Homo sapiens: one gene and its partner. The protein of the gene in region 2 purifies or fractionates together with the protein of the main gene of each other region. This does not show direct contact. Each region holds a gene or a part of one and is shown on either strand. Other genes may lie near its edges. The genes, in order: NMT1 and ABLIM1.

Evidence for each region.
Region 1: the proteins of ABLIM1 (region 2) and NMT1 purify together in Homo sapiens (affinity purification with mass spectrometry; 3 studies listed by BioGRID and IntAct, with this or other methods). This does not show direct contact.

Annotation. Positions count from the first base shown.
Region 1 is NC_000017.11:45,091,010-45,101,239, reverse strand, and holds part of NMT1 (glycylpeptide N-tetradecanoyltransferase 1), read right to left. Parts: intron 7,556-10,230; coding exon 7,437-7,555; intron 5,047-7,436; coding exon 4,955-5,046; intron 4,113-4,954; coding exon 3,996-4,112; intron 2,859-3,995; coding exon 2,688-2,858; intron 1,836-2,687; coding exon 1,727-1,835; intron 1-1,726.
Region 2 is NC_000010.11:114,569,939-114,580,168, forward strand, and holds part of ABLIM1 (actin-binding LIM protein 1), read right to left. Parts: intron 5,662-10,230; coding exon 5,478-5,661; intron 1,469-5,477; coding exon 1,359-1,468; intron 1-1,358. UniProt on the Homo sapiens protein: May act as scaffold protein. May play a role in the development of the retina. Has been suggested to play a role in axon guidance.

The DNA of each region.
Region 1 (10,230 bases), on a different chromosome or scaffold from region 2:
TCAGATGAGCCTGGGCAACATGGCAAAATCCTTTTTTTGTTGTTGTTGTTTTTTTTGAGATGGAGTCTCGCTCTGTGGGCCAGGCTGGAGTGCAATGGCGCTATCTCAGCTCACTGCAAGCTCCGCCTCCCGGGTTCACGCCATTCTCCTGCCTCAGCCTCCCGAGTAGCTGGGACTACAGGCGCCCACCACCAAGCCCGGCTAATTTTTTTTTGTATTTTTAGTAGAGACGGGGTTTCACCATGTTAGCCAGGATGGTCTCGATCTCCTGACCTCGTGATCCACTCGCCTAGGCCTCCCAAAGTGCTGGGATTACAGGTGTGAGCCACCGCGCCTGGCCTTCTTTTTTTTTTTTTTTTTTTTTTTTTTTTTTTTTTGAGACGGAGTCTTGCTCTGTTGCCTAGGTTGGAGTGCAGTGGTGCGATCTTGGCTCACTGCAAGCTCCGCCTCCCAGGTTCATGCCATTCTCCTGCCTCAGCCTCCCAAGTAGCTGGGACTACAGGTGCCCGCCACGCCACGACCAGCTAATTTTTTGTATTTTTATTAGAGACAGGGTTTCACCGTGTTGGCCAGGATGGTCTCGATCTCCTGACCTCGTGATCCGCCTGCCTTGGCCTCCCAAAGTGCTGGGATTACAGGCGTGAGCCACCACGCCCAGGCTTCTTTTATTTTGAGACGGAGTCTCGCTCTGTCGCCTAGGCTGGAGTGCAATGACGTGATCTTGGCTCACTGCAAGCTCCACCTCCCGGGTCCATGCCATTCTCCTGCCTCAGCCTCCCAAGTAGCTGGGACTACAGGCACCCACCACACCACGACTGGCTAATTTTTTATATTTTTACTAGAGACGGGGTTTCACCGTGTTAGCCAGGATGGTCTTGATCTCCTGATCTCGTGATCTGCCCACCTCAGCCTCCCAAAGTGCTGGGATTACAGGCGTGAGCCACTGCGCCTGGCAGCAAAACCCCGTTTCTATAAAAACAAAAATTGGCCGGGCATGGCGGCACACGCCTGTAGTCCCAGCTACTTGGGAGGCTGAGGTGGGAGAATCAGTTGAGTCTGGGAGGTCGAGGCTGCAGTGAGCTGTGACTGTGCCACTGCACTCCAGCCTGGGCAACAGAATGAGACCCTGTCTCAAAACAAAAAAAAAAGAATCCCTACCTGAAGCCAGCCACAGTTGGAGCATTTGTTTCTTTGGGAAACTAGGAAAACTGAGACCCAGAACAGAAAAGCAGCTCACTTTAAGGTTGCCCAGTCCTTCAGCCAAATCTGGGTGGGGAAATTGGGATTAGAAATCGGGGATCCCTCACAAGCTCAGGTCACCCTTTACCTGACCCGGCAGAGGGGCGTCACAGACCCTGTAGTGCATCTGCGCTGGGCTTTGGAACGCGCTGCCGTGTGTATGAAGGTTCACTAAGTGGATTCATCATTCTATTTATGCTTTACTTAGGCTAAAATTACAGAGAATAGGTGTTCTCTGAGCCTTTCAACAGATGGCAGAGAAGCTAGTCCAGGCACAGACTCAGAGGAACTGAGAAAGTTAAACTAAAATAAAATCCTGCTTCAGATAACAGAAATAGAAAGTCCAGGAAATCTGAAGACTATGGGCTGGTTCGCTTTTCCAGTAGGAGAAAGCTCCCTCTCCACCCAGAGCCCTTCTCTCCTGCTGACAGCCAGGCTCTCCTTGCCCTCTCTCTGCCCCCTGCCCACCACCCGGGGCAGCACTGGCCTCTGGCAGTCGGTAGAGCTTCATGGTGCGCTGCATGGTCATATTTCTGCTCAGGTGGGAGAACTTCACTTCAATCAGCTTCCGTGGGTTTAGGGACCGATGCCAATACCTGTGGGGACACAAATGTCCTGTCCTCAGGGTTCTGGCCAATCCCTATTACAAGGACAATGGCAGGGAGACCCCAGCTGGCCAGCAGGTGGCGTGAGAGACACATCAGGTGCCTCCGGAGTCAGTGGTGTCACCCTGCTCTCCAGCCTCCCCCTCCCCACAGTGAGTGCTGCCAAAGCTCCTCCTGGATTTTCTTTCTCCCTATTTTTCTTGCTCAATTTCAAAAACTATTCCTTTGCTACAGCGGTTGTCTGGGGAGACCAATCCTCACTCCTAGAATCAAGTCAACGGAAAAGGACTGTAGTCATGCCCAGAAGATGATGGCAGAGGCACTCACCCTCCTCCCTCCTCCCCTTCTGCTTTCACACCTGGTGTTTTTACTTTTAAAGTTCTCTAAGGAGAGATTATTCAATTGTTTTAAACAACTTTCTAAGGCAGAGGTTGCCCTTAGATCACATAGCTGACTTGCTCTATTTGGTGCACACAATATTCAAAACAATTTGAGCCAACCATTTAAAACTTTAGGACATTTCCCATAAAAATCCAGATTTGGGCTCATCCCTAAAAACAAAAACAAACCACCAGTACCGCCCCCCACCATCTCCAAATGGCAGCAGCCAGCAGACACCAAGAGCCCTCCAGACAAGGCAGGGACTTGCCAATCTGCCATCCCTACAACCCTCCCGCCCTCTCCATGCTCCCCATCTGGCTCCTGCAGGCACCAAGTGCCCGCCTTACCAGATACGCCAGAGGTGGGATGCTAAGGGCGGAGCTGTGACTCACAGTGGCACATGCTCCTCAACTACAGTGCAGACACCCGCATTTTTGGGGCCTTACAGGAAGACAGTTTTACCTGCAGGTGCCAACGGGCTTTGGTAGTACCACCCCGGCAGTGTAAACTGCTTGGAAGATGCCCTCCAGGTGAACCCGCCTGGTGATCTCTCGGATCAGAACTGGAGCAACCCTCTTGGAACGCAGCTTCTTGTGGACACACAGGAAGTTGATCTCTACCATCTTCTTCTCTCTAAGAGGGGGAAAAATCCAGGTGACAAGGTTTTTAACAGGGAAGGGAATGGTGATCCCATCAAGCACGTGCAGCCACACCTAGAAGGACCAGGTCTGCAGCACGGGTGTACTTTTAGCTGCCACCTGCACTCAGTACTGGGACTCCCCACCACACTCCACCAGGCAAGGAGCCTGCCTCACTTCAACAGAATCTATTTCCAAAGGAAGGTGGGACCCAAGCAAACACCTTTATTTGAAGGTACCACCAGCATCTCCCTGATGAGTCCCTAGGAGTTGGCTGGGGAATCCCACCTTTAGCATGCAGGGAAGCAGCACAGGGAACCCACGGGGCAGGTCAAGGCAATTCTAGGGTTTCAAGGGTTCTGATTCCCTCAAGAACACAGCTGGTAATAAGCCCTGAAGACTGTGGCAGGCAGATGGTTTCAACACTTCCAGGGAAAATGAAGAGCAGAGATCACAGGCCCCAAGGACTATCTGAATCTGGGTCACACTCGCTCTGGCCCATTTCTGCTGCTGTTCAAGTGCTTCCATGTGTGACTGGTACAGGCGTTCAAAAATGAGCCTCTGATTAGCCAGGTGTGGTGGCGCATGCCTGTAATCCCAGCTACTTGGGAGGCTGAGGCAGGAGAATCGTTTGAACCCTGGAGGTGGAGCTTGCAGTGAACCAAGATCGCACCACTGCACTCCAGCCCGGGCAACAGAGTGAGACTAAGAAAAGCCTCTGGCCAGGCACAATGGCTCACGTCTATATTCCCAACACTCTTGGGAGGCAGAGGTGAGTGGATCACTTGAGCTCAGGAGTTTGAGACTAGCGTGGGCAACATAGCAAGACCTTGCCTCTATAAAATGTAAAAAATAATAAACAAAAACAAAAACAAGCCTCTGCTGAGCAGGCACACCAGGCCTCAGGGTGGGCTCCTTCCAACCTGGGCCACAAACAAGGGAGCTGGCTGGGACTCTGAGCAGAACAGGTGGTTCCTAGGATGAATCTGCAGTCCCCGCACCTGGGCATCCTCCCTTCCTGAGACCTTCCCTCTTCCTTTCATGGGGCACATTGTGCAGCCTTTTTCTACTCTCTCCCAGACCAAGCAGGATGGCGGTGTTGTGGGGGGTGGGGGTAGGTGCAGGTGCTTACGTGTCATAGATATGGATGTTTGCTGGGATGGCGCTAATGAACCCAACCAATTTCCGACTTGAGACCACTCGAACCCCACAGTGCCACTGGGGGAGCCAGCCGGGTGGCCGGAGAGCCCTGGAAAAGAGAGGCTGGGGTGGTTGTGCTGCTTGCCGGCAGGCTGGACAAGCCGCTTGGGCTCCACAGCCAAATTTGGTTCGGACCTGGTGCTACCACCTCCCTGAGGGTTAATAGCTGGATTCTCTTTAGGGCCAAGCCCTCCTGGACACACAGAATCGAGCCATCACCATTTCTGGCTGCTCATCCCATTTGGCCTAGTTACTCATCCAACCCAAGGTTATCATACTGAGGATTTCATGCCTGATCCAATTTCTGTGTTCACTTTGACAGCTTGAACCAAGGTACTGGCATCTTTGGTTCGGAGGCCAGTGGGTCCCATGGTTGAGAGCTGACTGTGGCAACCCTGGAGCTCTGGTGTCCTGTCTCCCTCTTTCTGGTACAAATTCTTCCTTCCCTTTCAGGTAGTCCCTCTCCATTTCGGCCCATGCCTCTCTCTTCCTGGATATTAAACGTGGCCTGGGCAGGTGGATGGCTCAGCCAGGCAAGGCTATACAACTGAGCATGCTCAGGAACTAGATAGAAAATGTGCCTTCTTTTCTTTCAGTCTTAGTAGGTCTCATGCCCGTTCCTTTCTTATATAAAGTCACCAGACAATGAATACCTCTTCCCTGGGTACTAGCTCTACGAAGGTCTCCCTCACCCAGTCAATTGTCTTAAACAAGGCTGCAATTCTAAGTGCTAATGAAAGCAAGTGTCCTTCAGATGCAGGAACTCAAAAATGACACACTAATTTGCCATTCAAAGGTTGGCCCCTGGCAGGGATGAAAACTCTGGTGCCCTCTGGTGGATCTGCTCTATGCCTTCCTCTCAAGAACCTCAAGAAAGCCCCCACAACTTACCACAAAAGAAACTCCGGGGAATAATCAAATCGGAACATGTTGTCATCATCTTCCACATAGTTCTCATTCAGGAGGGTGTACAGTTCTTTTAGCTGTAAAGAAATAAGCAGCTCACTTGGAGGTATTCTGCCAGGTAGTAGACCAACTCCAATACCCTGGGGCTCTAGGCTTTTCAGAAGGATGAAGCAAACTACCAAAAACGACGTGGAGTCTCACAAATCCTTCTGCCCCCTGGCATGGTAGGAACTCTTGGAGCAAACACCCTAGTTATAGTAGAAAACTGAGCCATCACGTGGTAGAGTGGCAGACCGAGAATGCCACCTAACTAACCAACCACTTCATCATTCTGCGCCATCAACAATGGAGAGCCACTGGTCTCAACTTCTGTGAAGTGCTATAGAGGGACGACTCTCGAAGCTAGTCAAGGAATTACCACGGAGAGTCACTGCTGTTTCCCACCTTGTCTGATTTTTTACCATCTGGCCCAAACAAAGGCCTTTTTTCCTTTCTTTTCAAGATAGAGTCTCACTCTGTTACCCAGGCTGGAGTGCACTGGTGTGATCATGGCTCACTGCAGCCTCCAACTCCTGGTTTCAAGCGATCCTCCTACTTCAGCCTCCTGGGTAGCTGAGACTACTGGGGCATACTACCATGTCCGGCTAATTATTAAATTTTTTTCTTTTGTAGCGGGGGCAGTCTCACTATATTGACCCGGCTGATTGATTTTGAACTCCTGGGCTCAATCGATCTTCCCACCTTAGACTCCCAAATTGTTGGAATTACAGGTGTGAGCCACCACACCCAACCACAAAGGCCTTTTTCTGCCTTCTCAGCTATCTCCATCTGCTGGCCCAACTTTGGTATTAAAAAATTCTGTTGGCCCGGTGTGGTGGCTCAAGCCTGTAATCCCAGCACTTTGGGAGGCTGAGGTGGGCGGATCACCTGAGGTCAGAAGTTTAAGACCAGCCTGGCCAATGTGGTGAAACCCCATCTCTACTAAAAAATAAAAAAATTAGCCTGGCGTGGTGACAGACACCTGTAATCCCAGCCACTGGGGAGGCTGAGGCAGGAGAATTGCTTGAACACAGGAGGTGGACGTTGCAGTGAGCCAAGATTGTGCCATTGCACTCCAGTCTGAGCAACAGAGCAAGACTCCATCTCAAAAAAAAAAAAAAGACTGGGCGCAGTGGCTCATGCCTGTAATCCCAGCACTTTGGGAGGCCGAGATGGGTGGATCATGAGGTCAGGAGTTCGAGACCAGACTGGCCAACACAGTGAAACCCCATCTCTACTAAAAATACAAAAATTATCCATGCATGGTGACAGATGGTTGTAATCTCAGCTACCTGGGAGGCTGAGGCAGGAGAATCACTTGAACCTGGAAGGTGGAGGTTGGGGTAAGCCAAGATCGCGCCACTGCACTCCAGCCTGGGCAACAGAACCAGACTCTGTCTCAAAAAAAAAAAAAAAAGCCAGGCCTAGTGGCTCATTGCCTGTAATCCCAGCACTTTGGGAGGCCAAGATGGGCAGATCACCTGAGGTCAGGAGTTCGAAACCAGCCTGGCCAACATGGTGAAACACCATCTTTTCTAAAAATATAAAAATTAGCTGGGCGTGGTGGCACTCACCTGTAATCCCAGCTACTCGGGAGGCTGAGGCAGGAGAATCGCTTGAACCCAGGAGGCAGAGACTGCAGTGAACTGAGATGGTGTCACTGCACTCCAGCCTGGGCAACAGAGCGAGACTCCATCTCAAAAAAAAAAAAAATTCTGTTGACTTTTTTTTTTTTTTGAGACAAAGAGTCTCGCACTGTCACCTGGGCTGGAGTGCAATGGTGAGATCTCAGTTCACTACAACATCCCCCTCCCAGGTTCACGAGATTCTCCTGCCTCAGCCTCCTGAGTAGCTGGGATACAGGCGTACACCACCACACCTGGCTAATTTTTTGTATTTTTAGTAGAAATGGGGTTTTATTATGTTGGTCAGACTGGTCTCAAACTCCTGACCTCATGATCCGCCTGCCTCAGCCTCCCAAAACGGTGGGATTACAGGTGTGAGCCACCACGCCCGGCGACATTTTCATCATTCTTTATAAGGGAAATAAATCCCTCAGGTCAAAACAAGGGGCTCTGGGTGGCCGGGGTGGAAAGGGGAGGACAGGGCCTCATTTAGCAGCCCCAGCTGCTCCAGTCAGGAGACAGACTAGAAAGAAAATGAGGAAATGAATGAACAAAAAAGAATAAATGAAAAACAGGTATCCACATCGGGGACCTACAGAGGTTAACTTCCAACCTGCCAGAAAAGCTAAGAGCTATTTATGTGGAGTCTTGGCCATGCCCCAGGAAGTTACAGACGGGAGTCTGTTCAGACCTCCTTGGCTCAGCTCTCTAGGGCTCGAGTAAACGTAGTCTAGGTGAGACTGCAGGGCTTACTGTGAAAGTGGCTCCTACCCGCAGGTGTAACCTTCTGAGGGCCCACTCACCACACCACGATCGCCCAGGTCCAAAGCATCCCAGGTGAAGCCCTGGGGCAGGGTGTAGGGCTCCTGGCGGATATTGTCCTTGTCAGGCTCCACGGGGCCATGGGTGTTCACCACTTCGCCTGAAAGAAGAGCACAGCTGTGAGCCTCACCCTTTGCCCCCTCGGGGCAGTAAAGGGCTCAGTTCAAAACTCAACCAGAGCAAATTCCTCCTGTCCCTAGGAGCCCTCTATCTGAAGAACATTCTGTGCTTGGCAACTGCAAACCGTCTTTCCAGCTACCCTTAGCCCCTAACTGAGGGCCAATTCATGGCAAAACCTCAGGACAATCACTGGGATCCAAGGTGGTTCGTGTTTTGGAAATCCATTTAAATCTCCCTTGGGTCACTGAATGACAAACATTTATCTTTAGTAATTTGGCTTCCTGCCTCCTGGTTGGTGTAAAGAGTGCTGTCAGGGCCCTGGCCCAGGCCCATCAGTCTGGATGGGTTTGTAAGGAGTCACAACAAGGCTGCTTTTGTGTCAACAGCAACAACAATGTACTGGGCCCATTTCTGAACCAGATGATGGCTTCTAGGCGCCAGGCTCAATCGTGGCCCTGCCAGCCTTGGCTTTCAGCAGCGTGAGCCAGTTAACTGCTACTGCCAACTCAGGCCCTCAGTGTTTAGAGTCCTGCAAGTGCCTTTGGGCTGAATCACCAAGTCTACATAGTGCTGCCGGGAAGTCACCCTGACACAACATCCCCTCCCTGAGCAGGATAGGCCCCTCCTCTGTGGGAGCATGTGGGGAGTGCTCCAAAGACACAGCCCTCATTCCTATCCAGAGCTCAATCGGACTCATATATGCTGAGAGATTCACCACTGAATTCTGGCCCTTGGGATGATTTCGGTTCTACAATGGGCTCACTCATGTTTACACTGGGAAGAATGCAATGTTTAGTGCATTTTGGAAAATGGAGTCTTCAAAAGGGACCAACCCAGTAACAGTGTTCCTAGCAAAGGGCTCTGTATAGACTAGGCACTCAATTCATGCTTTTACTGACTTTCAGACTCCTGATCCCAAATATTTTTTTTTTCTTTTCTTTTCTTTTTTTTTTTTTTGAGACAGTCTCATTCTGTCGCCCAGGTTGGAGTACAGTGGTGCGATCTTGGCTCACTGCAACCTTCACCTCCCTGGTTCAAGCAATTCTCCTGCCTCAGACTCCCGAGTGGCTGGAATTACAGGTGTCCGCCACCACGCTGGCTAATTTTGGTGTTTTGTTTTTTTTTTTTCAGTAGAGATGGAGTTTCACCATGTTGGCCAGGCTGGTTTCAAACCCCTGGCCTCAAGTGATCCACCCGCCTCGGCCTCCCAAAGTCCAAACATTTCATTCTAACATGTAACAGGAAGCTCTAGACCTTCCCAGAATGATAATCTGTGGGGCAAGTGTGGTGGAAAGGGCTGCATCAGGCTGCAGCACACGACACCACCGCTGGCACTGATCATCTCACCCTCTTCCATCAGACACATTACTGAGCACCAACCGTGCACCAGTGACTCAGTGACCATGCCAGCCCCTAGTGTACAGCAGGAAAAAGGACCAAGTCCCTGTCCTCATGAGACATACCATCTTCTGGGGAAATAGTAAATAAATGAGTCATTATCCACGTGCTGCAGGTCAGGATCTGGAAAGTGCAGGGACACACAACAGGGAAGCAGCCTGCTCTGTTGGTAATCAGGCTTCCCAACAGGTTTGCTTGGGAGAGAGGTCATATTTTTCTTCCCTAGTTAGGAAACTCATGACTGGCGAGATGGGGTCTTGCTCTGTTGCCCAGGCTGGAATGCAGTGGCGTAACCTTGGTTCACTACAGCCTCGACCTCCTAGGCCCAAACGATCCTCCCATCTCAGCCTCTCGAGTGGTTGGGACTATAGGCATGCGCCACTACGCCTGGCTAATTTTATTTTTCATAGAGATGAGGTCTCACTGTTGCCCAGGCTGGTCTCAAACTCCTAGACTCAAGTGATCCTCCTGCCTTGGCCTCCCAAAATGCTGGGATTATAGCATGAGCCACGGCGCCCAGCCAAAACCCACCATTTGATTATTCATAAAGTAGCTCTTGTGAATTTAAGTCAATCCGCTTCCAACTGACAGCTATGTATATTAAAAAAACATTTTTGAGCCTACAAAACTGAGGGCCAGACCCTCTAGTCTTATCTAGGTGCTAATTTCCCAACTTGTATTGAATTTATACCTTTTCCTATACACTTCAGAACCTTCTTTTTTTCCCCCTGAATTATTTCCATGGCCAAGAATACTGATGGTCTTCCCTATTGTACTAAAATAACCTCAAGGCTAAATCTTCTCATTTAGGCTGGCTACTAGGTCCTACACGCAACAGGCACTTCCATTCACTCACTCCTTCACCAAGTGTTCACTGAATCCTAGAATGTGCCAGTTCTGTGGCAGGGGCTGGCGAATGAAACAGACACAGGTCCTCACCATCATGGACACCAAAGAGATGAGCAAGGATGCACATGCCACCCGGCATGGTGAGGGCCAGTAAGAATGAAGTACAGGGTGCTATGGGACGTGTGTGTGTGTGTGTGTGTGTGTGTGTGTGTGTGTGTGTGTGTGTGTGTCAGGAAAGACCTCTCAGAGGAAATATCTAACGACAAGACCTCAAGGATAATTAGGAATCAGCCAGGCTGCAGGTGGACTATGTGGGGCAGGGTGGGTGTGAAAAAGTAGAGCTACAGGAAACACTGAAAAGGGAGCAGCCACTTTTACTAGACTCCCACTGTGGAGTGCCCTCGATGC
Region 2 (10,230 bases):
AAAAATCCAATTTCTATGCAAATGCTTTAGTCAGAACATTCTTCTTTTTAACAAGTATAACACTTCTCTCTAATAGGAAGATTTGGAATCACTATTATAAATTGCACTGAATTTCTCTGGTGCAGAAGTGGTTTATCTCATCCTTACGTATTAAGACTCACTTAAGGGCTTAAAGAGGTTTATTCCAAATCTCCCAAGGACTGGCAAAAGCCACAGAACCCAAGGCAAACCTCTAGTTCACTTCCTAATGTCCCAGGAAAGAGATGGGAGTAGAGCTTCCTTGCTTGGTGCCCACAGTTCATAATGCATCAACTTCAAATGTGTGTTAACTGACCTACTCGATGTTATTTTCCAGAAGAAATGGTGCAATTGGCCACTCTTTTTATTTGGGGGTAAGTAGGTTCTCTATGGATTCTGACAGGTCAGACAAGACCTTGTAAATAATGACAAGTCCCCAGATATATGTGCAGCTTTTTCCCACACTTTCTTCAAACCTCTCCTTAGGTGTCATATTTGAGAGAAGTCTTCTCTGCCCCATATAAGTGCAGCTCTTTTATTCTGCTTTAATTTTATTCCTACTTTAATTTTTTTCACATATTAGATATTTTTGTGTATGCAAAGGAATTTCTGGGTCACATGGTAGTTCTATTTTTCTGGGTTTTTTTTTTTTTTTTTTTTTTTTTTGAGATGGTCTAGCTTTGTCACACAGGCTGGAGTGCAGTGGTACAATCTCAGCTCACTGCAACCTCAACCTTCGCCTCCCAGGCTCAAGCTATCCTCCCATCTCAGCCTCCCAAGTGGTTGGGACTACAGACGTGCACTATCATACACAGCTACTTTTTGCATTTTTTGTAGAGACGGGATTTTGTCATGTTGCCCAAGCTGTTTTTAAATGAGGCTCAAGCAATCCTCCCGCCTCAGCCTCCCAAAGTGCTGGGATTACAGGCATAAGCCACCACACCTGGCCTATTTTTAATTTCTTTAGGAGCCTCCATGCTGTTTTCCATGATGCCTACGTCAAGAATCTACATTCCTACCAACAGTGTTCAAGGGCTCCCTTTTCTCCACACCTAGGCTGATGCTCGTCATCTCCTGTCTTTTTCATAATAGCTATCTTAACAGGTATAAGTTGGTATCTTATGGTTGTTTTGATTTGCATTTCCCTGATGACTTATAACATTGAGCACCTTTTCATGTACCTGTTGGCCATTTTAATGTCATCTTTGGAGAAATATCTATTCAAGTAGATAGATGACTCTCATTTCCAGCTAACAGCGTTTCTCAAAAAGGAAGGCACCTGCCTGAGCTACCTCTGGACTACATAGGTATTCACGTCAGTGGGTCACCGGGGCACTTACTGCTGGAGAAGGTGGTTTCTTTCGGACTGGACGACATCGGCTGTGCACAGAGTTGACAAAGGCAGTCTCTCCCATTGAATGTGACTCGGTCTCCGGGTGGAAACGGGCGCCTGGAGGCAGAAAGACATCGCCCTCAAGGTTATTGCAGCAATTTCATTCCTTTTCCTTATTCCTTCTGCTTGCTGCCCTCCGGTGCCCATTTATTTCTTGGAGAAGCAGCAGCCAACATGTCTGAAATGCAGTCATAACCAAGCCAGCCAGCTGGAGACAGTCCAAACAAATAAATGTGCCTCATTTTGAGAAGAAAGGGGAATGTACTGGTTCTAAGGGCAACCAGGTAGTAAAATGGAATGATTTACCTCCATTCATTAGTGAAGGGATATTCCAGCAAGTGATCTAGCAGGGCACACAGAACAGTAAGTTTCCAAATGGAAAGTCCTTCATGAAAAAATATTTTAAATACCATGAATTCCCAGTGAAGCTTAAGGCCCTGCCCCAGGAGACCTGGCTACAGGTCAAGCAGTAAGCAGTGGGTCTTTCAGTTCCCTGGGACCGTGCCTAGACCTCTGTGATGATTATGCAGGATTAGACTTTGTGCTGGACACCTACATGGGTGAACGGAACGTTTCATGGTGCTGGAGACCCAGTCCCTTATAAACTGGGAGAAATGGGACAGGCTGTAAATATCTGTTTAAGAATTCATATTAGCTTCTTTTCAGAAAGACAATTTCTCTTCATAGTAGATATTCATCAATAGCAGCACATTTTGCAAAAATATTGCCTTCTGCATGTAGATAATCAGTTTCTTCTCCCAGGTCACCAGGCAGAGAGCCCTTTAAACAAGTCATTAATGAACAGACATATGACAGTTTCCATGCCCACTCACTTGCCCTTGGCCTATGTACCAATAATCTTCATTAAAGTGATTTTTCAAATGTGTGATGCTGCCAATTAGGAAACGTGAAACTCACAAGCTGAACATCACCACAAATCTTAGTTAGAAGCAATTACTTAAGAGCAAGTACCAGCTTTTTGACATTCATTTTTACTTCCACAGCTGCTACATTCCCTTTAAGTTGCCCCTCAGTAGCCTAACAATTGGCAATTAACTGTAATAAACAACATATAGGTAAATTTGGAGTTAACCCCACAAATGTGGCTGGCTCCAGTCATCACAGAGAGTTTTAAATTCTTACACCCTTACATTTTAGAAGTCCCGAGGAGAGGTGGTGTCCTCTCCACTTGTGATGCTGTGTCACTTTCGGCAGTACAGTGAAGGCTCAGAGAGGTGAAGTGACATGCCTGGACTGACCAGCTAGGGAGATCAAGCCATAGGCAGGTGCAGATGGCATCCACCAACTTAGAACTTGTTTTATTTTTAAGAATCAAAAATCACCCTCTGCTGGATGCCAGTAGCCCTACTGCTTCACACTCATTAGCTAAACCTGAACAAGTCTTAAATCTGTTCTGTAAGGAGGGAGTCAGGAAGTTAAGGATCCATTCAACACAACACGCACAGGTTCTTTTGCCTCCGACCAGGCCAGGAGTGGACCCAGACACAGCGTTTAAAGAGGCACTCGTGCTCCGTGGCTGACCCTGCACTTGCAGGACCCTGAGAATAAGTGCCCTTTACCTGTTGCATGCCCAGAGGCACCTCGCTTACCCCACCCAAGCCCAAGCCTTCCTTCCCATCCAAGCTTATTATTTTAGACCCAAGTCCCACACGAATCCTCTATGGGACAAGCCAGAATCCAGTTCTCAACTTGGGCTGGGCCTTCTGAAGGGTGGGTTTTGTTGTTTTGTAAATGGCCCTTTTCAGTAATTTCCTCCCTCCCTATATCCTCTGCCCATACTGGATAACTTCCTTCTTTTATTTGCATGAATGTTTATAATAGAAAGAGACCTGGATTTAGAGTTAGAAAACCTGAGTTCTAACGTTAACTTGGGAATGTCCCTTAAACCGTGAGCCTCAAAGTCACTCATAAATAGAGATATTAACTCCTGGTTCCCTTCAAAGAATTGCTAAGAGGGTGAAATTAACTTCTGTATGAATATAACTTCTCAACTAAAAAGGAGGCCCCAATTCAGACAGAATTATCGTCATTCGGCAGCAGTAGAGGCAGTAGCAGTAAGTGCTCCTTTGCTGGCTCAAATGTCCAGGGACAGGGCCATAGTTAATAAATCGTTTTTTATCATTATACCAACTTCAAAGCAATGACCTCTCAGGGTCAGGATCAGAAGGGCTCTTAGAGTTTACTGGGAACACGGCCTTCCAACCTGGCTGACTGACAACATACATGAGAACCCTCCAGAAACTACTAAATTAGCATGCAGGTTTTGGGGGAAAATAGGCTAGAAATTGATCTTTGTGGAGAGACTCCCATCTCTAGTCCACTCCCACCCATCCAGGAGATTCCAGTGATGAGCGAGGCTTGAAAAATGACTCGCATCTAGTTCACAGCTTCTCATTCTAAGGTGGAGGCAATTGTCTGGAAAAAGCTAAATCACATAGGTCTCAATTCAACCTGGGAAGTAAGACTGGGACTTGGGGCTCCATGCCAGCCCAGGACTCTTAACCAGGCTGTGTGCCACAGCCTGAAAAGGGAAAAATCAGGGCAGAACTTTGCTTTTGATTAAATACAGAAAAATATTCAGTTCATTCATCCAGAATTATTAAATTATGATTTAAAAAAATGAAATAGAGAAATGAGCTAATACATAGCTATAAAGTTATTTAAATAATTTTATTATGAATATTTTGTGTCTTATTATGATTTATCAGTATTATCTTGTTAATTAATTACACAATATTGAATCTTCCCTTCTAGAGCTTACATCTCTCTGGCTTAGAAACATACAATGCTGAAAAACAGACAACACGTCTCCTCTGAATTGGGGTTTTTAGAAAGGCATAGCAAATAGATCTCCACTTGAAAAGGCACTGGATTGCAAAATTGCCAAATTAGAATTGATCAATAAAGCAGCTGACCCTTGGTGGTGAGTCTCCTAGTTACAGGAATCAAACCTATCTTAAGTTTTATAACATGCAGACCTCAAAACACAAAAACCACAAAAAGCCCCACATTTTCCCACTCACACTTCACATAGTTTTCTTGTTCTCTGACTGATCATTTTATTATTTATTTTATTTTATTTTTTTTGAGATGGAGTCTTGCTGTGTCACCCAGATTGGAGTGCAGTGGCACGATCTCGGCTCACTGCAACCTCCGCCTCCCGGGTTCAAGCCATTCTCCTGCCTCAGCCTCCCAAGCAGCTGAGATTACAGGCACCTGCCACCTCGCCTGGCTAATTTTTTTGTATTTTTAGTAGAGACAGGGTTTCACCATGTTGGCCAGGCTGGTCTCAAACTCTTGAGCTCAGGTGATGTACCTGCCTCGGCCTCCCAAAGTGCTGGGATTATAAGGGTGAGCCACCACGCCCAGCCTGACTGATCATTTTAATCAAGCTGGTTTGCACAGTTAAGATACAACCTTGGTAGATGACAGATACATAGAGAACAGGGTTGGCAAATATTTCCCCCCAAAGATGAGATTGTAAATTTTTTAAGACTTTGCGGACCATATGGTCTCTGTCGCAATGACTCAACTCTGTTGTTGCAGCGTGGAAGCAGCTATAGGCCACACACAAGTGGGAGTGGCTGTGTTCCAATAGAACTTTATCCACAAAAACAGGTATCAGGCCTAATTCAGCCCATGGGACACAGTTTGCCACCGCCTATTATAGATGAAAGAGACCATTTTAAACACACACACATGCCTAGGAATTTATACTTCCAAATAAGCTTTATCCTTCTAAGCAGTTATGCCATTTCCCCCTGATGTTTTTATTGCTCCAAAATGTTTTGAGACCCAGAGCTGCTTTCAGAATTAGTTTCAATCTACTAAAAATCAGTCATATTACTTTGTAGAGGACATCACACATACAGTTTCCAACTAATCTACTTTTTTTACTAGGACTGATAGTACAGTAAGAAAGAAATCTAAGGATAAGAGTATGTGCTACTCAAGACAAAAGGTGTATAATCCAACCTTTAACAGCCCAAACCAGCATTTCTCTGTTGGAGGAAGGTGTAGGCTTTGGAAAGATAGGCTCACTTACTTGCAGATAGTACAAGCAAAGCAATTGGGATGGTAGGTCTTGCCCAGAGCAGTCACCACTTCGCCCTCCACGAACTCCCCACAGCCATGGCAGCGTGTCCCGTACATCCGCTGGTAGTCCAGGGTGCAGAGATACTCTCCGTTCTTTATGAAGAAGCCCCCTTGTGCCAGGTCACAGCCACACACTGTAGAGAGACAAGTTCACATCTGGTCATTATCTGCCACACTGCCGGGCAGCACTGCCTTTGAGTGAATACTGACTGGTTGCTCACCCTGTGATCTCAATGGTTTGGGGCTAGGGAGGGGATGGCTACAAAGAGCTATTTATTATTGGGCTCTGACCCTCCCTTTGGGAGCTATGCAATATCTCATACAAGTAAAATCCACTGGCTAGGTCTCAACAGCTTTTGTGATATGTCTAAAATTCTGAGATAATCAAACAGTCTTTGATAGAAAGATACCCTTCATTCAGGCTGTCTCAAATATGAGCAAAGGTGTCCCTGGCAGTGTGCTATTTAGGAAAGGTGCCCACTGCCTGCCCACACAACCACATGGTTTGGGCCAAGATTGTTAGGAGTTGAGTAATAAATTTCCATTATACCAAAGGCAGTAGCTGAAATTTCCGATAGCTGTATTTTTTCACACTCTGGAACTACTTTCCACTGCTACGAAAAATTCAGATGTTTCATTTTTTCTTTGTGCAGTAAATAGAATAAGCCAATTATTTATATATTATAGAGAGATAAAAAACAAACAGGCAAAAGAGGAAAGACCTGTTATTTGGATGCTTTATTGTGTCTGGATTTTGGCATCTCCTTCCGACTGTGCAGCTGTGGATTAGGGAGATGGTGCAAACAGGCAGTGGGAGCTTGGGCCTGGTCTACGTGTTCAGACAAGACCAGAGTAGGTCACAACAATTTGTCTGCAAATAAAGCCTAAAGCAGTCCCTGACAGTAAAGATCTCTCTCTGCCAAATGGCTGAGAAGCAACAGCCAAAGCTGGAAATCTCTGACCCTAACCTTGCTATCCCCAAGGTCAACTGATTCCAATTTATAATTCCTTAGGCAAAGAATCCAGGATTCTTCTTGATTATTTGGTATTCAGTTGGGGTGGGGACAAGGTGAGTTCAATCAGTAAATTGCTTTCCTAAGGACCTGCTCGAATGCTCCCAGGGTTCATCTGCTGAGTTCCCATGACTCCTTAATTCATCTAGATGAACTAGGGCTTCAGTAAGGTTCTGATGAAAGTCACGACTCCCCCACCTTCAGTCAGGACTCTTCACTAACTACAAGCTACGGAAGACGTTCAAGGTGATCCAAAACCCACAAACAAACTTTCCATTGTGGATTCATCAGTCTTTGTTTAGATCAACACTCCACAGCCATGACCTTCTTCTTTGCAATTTACAATTAAGTAACCCAAGATTATGGCCTGAGTCCATCATGCCTGAAACTGACCACCCTATAAATACTCCTGTGATCATATTATCTGGAAAACAGCTCATTCACCACCTGCTGCCTCCTCTCACCTGCCAACCTCTCCTCTGCCCCCACTGTTCTCCCACCTGCTTCTTCTTCCCCAGATGAGTCCTGTGGGTCAGGGGAACCCACGTGTGGATTGGCCTCATTCTGATTGCAAATTCCTTCAGCAACAATAGGCAGTCTGGGGGTAGCGGGTCACAGAACCTTAGAGTGTTTTCTTCAATATCTGTCTATGTGCAGATCTTATTTTTCTACAAGATGGCAAGGTATTTGAGGGGTGAGAGTCTTCTTTTGATTCTTCTTCAGGAACCTAATTGTATCTAATATAAAACAGGAAACACAATGTTTGAAATAAACTGAATCCTGCCTGAAACTTGGCAGGTTCCCACTGATTTCACTCCTCAGTGACATCAAGTTCTGATGACTCAGTTATTTTTCCAAACTTAGGATTTCTCAAAGCCCTGAGAAGTGACACAACAATGCATCCAGACTACTGGTAATTCCCTAAATTCTCTCCTCCAGTCAGCTATGGCTTAAAAATGCAGAGTCGTTATACAAAGATGTGGTGTCAAAAGGGTAATCTGGTGGCAATACACAAAAAATAGATTGAGATAGTTTCAAAGCTAATTCTAAATGTTTTAGAAATTATTTGTATTTACTGCTTTCTTAGGGCACCTGTCTGCAGCCTTTTCCAGATCACATGGTTTTGTGAAATTGACATATAGTATCCTTTATTAATAAAGTCCTAGTTTCTGTGAACATAACATAGCCTTAAAAAATGAATTCTTAACACTACTGAGAGATGCCAAGCTACATTCAAACTGTGCCTTATTATGATTTGATTTGGCTTTTTCCTTAAAGTAGTGCTCAAGGTGGCTTACAAACCATACCATTATTTCTGGTGGTTTATACAAGGAAACCAGTGTTTGATGTGACTCCCAGAGGCAGGTGTTCCTAAAGGCATATGCAACAAGCAGTGAGAAGGGGGGCCTATGATGCCAGTACCTAAAATATACTTAACATTATTACATTTCCTGAAAATGGACCAGCTGTCACATCATTTCAGACTCTTCCCTCTCTTGCCTCCCCAGGCTTTACTTTCCTGTTTCTCCTCCTCTGTCTACTCCTTCTCAGTCTCAGTGGCCAGGCCCCTAAATGCAGGTCACTCCTATGGGTGCCATCTCCTCCCTCTATGATGTAAGGCCTCCCTGGGAACAGATCTCATTCACTCTCACAACCTCAACTATAACTTTATGCGAGGGATGATCAAATTAATGATCTCTCTCTGTGATGTCTTCCCCAAGCTTTAGACCCTGATTTGTAGCTGTGTGCTGGGCACAGGCAGACCGCCATGCCTCTCTCAAACCCAGCATTTTCCAAACACACCCTTTCCTCACAGTTGCTCTGCCATCCCCCATAAAACCTTCTGCTGTTCTTTTTCTATTCCCTTTCTCATCAAAATGGTAGCTGTATCCATTCTCCAACTCTTACATCAACATCAACATTTTCTGTTGTTTTTTTTTTTTTTGAGATGGAGTTTCGCTCTTGCTGTCCAGGGTGGAGTGCAATGGCATGAATTCGGCTCACTACAACCTCCACCTCTCCAGTTCAAGCGATTCTCCTGCCTCAGCCTCCCAAGTAGCTGGGATTACAGGCATGTGCCACCACACCCGGCTAATTTTGTATTTTTAGTAGAGATGGGGTTTCACCATGTTGGTGAGGCTGGTGTTGAACTCGTAACCTCAGGTGATCTGCCCAACTCGGCCTCCCAAAATGCTGGGATTACAGGTATCAGCCACCACGCCCAGCCAACATCAACATCTTCAACTGGACCCAAATCCAACCCATTTCCCCAATGAGGTGTTTCTTTTTCTTTCTTTCTTTCTTTTCTTTTTTTTTTTTTTTTTGAGATGGAGTTTCACTCTTTGTTGCCCAGGCTGGAGTGCAGTGGCATGATCTCAGCTCACTGCAACCTCTGCCTCCTGGGTTCAAGCGATTCTCCTGTCTCAGCCTCCCGAGTAGCTGGGATTACAGGTCCCTGCCACCACGCCTGGCTAATTTTTGTATTTTTAGTAGAGATGGGGTTTCACCACATTGGCCAGGCTGGTCTTGAACTCCTGACCACAGGTGATCTGCCCACCTCAGCCTCCCAAAGTACTGTTATTACAGACGTGAGACACTGCTCCTGGCCCAATGAGGTGTTTCTTTGATCCATTCCCTCCTCTGCCTTCTTGCTATCACTACTCAAAACCTGGCCTTCAGCATGGCTCTGCTGTAGTAAAACAATTTTTTTTAACAACATTTGTATTGGCAGGAAAAGAAAAACAACAGGAAACAATCTAAACTTTCATTAGTAGAAAAATAGTTGAATAAATTATGCTATGTCCAGTCTATGGAGCTGGTATTAAAAAGAATGAATTTAGCCCTCTGGATTGTGGATATTGACAGCCCTCTACGTTGCAGACATTGATCTGTCTGTGATATATTGTTCAGTGAAAAGAACAAATGTCACAGAGTAAACGATTTTAAAAATCCCATTTTTAGATAAGTCATGTTTTTATGAACTAGGTAAAGTGAGTTAACATAAACAGAACCATTAAATTGGTTCTCTCAGGAGGGTAAAGAATTATTAATTTTTTCTTCATATACCCACTTGTCAGTCCATTTTGTAATTTTATTTTTAATTGTGACAAAATGCATATAACAAAAAATTTACCATCTTAATCATTTTTAAGTGTACAGGTCAGTGGCATTAGATACATTCACATTGTTGTGCAACCATCACTGCTATCCATCCACAGAACTCTTTTCATCTTGCAAAACTGAAACTCTGCACCCATTAAAATCCCTATTCCCTCTTCCTCCAGCCCTGGGCAACCCCATTCTACTTTCTATCTCTATGAATTTAACTCCTCTAGGTTCCTCATATAAATAGAAGTTCACCTTTAATCACAGTAATGTTAAGAAAAATTATCCAAAACTTGTAAACAAGGTAAAGGGAAGAAGGCATGTTCTTTAAATGTCATACTGGGGCATTGTTTCACAGATCACATAAGGATTATTTCATTATCCGGGGAGACTAGATCGGTGTTGGACAAGCCCTTTCCTATTGATGAAAGGCCCAGACTTTAGAAGTTAATGTTAACTTTTTTATTCTTGTCCAGTAGAGATGCAGATGACTTCTGTCTGGTTTTATCATCGTGTTGAACCATGAATCAGTTTTACATCTAGCCCAGCCATCTTATTCTGACATTCCTTTTTGAATGCCTTTAT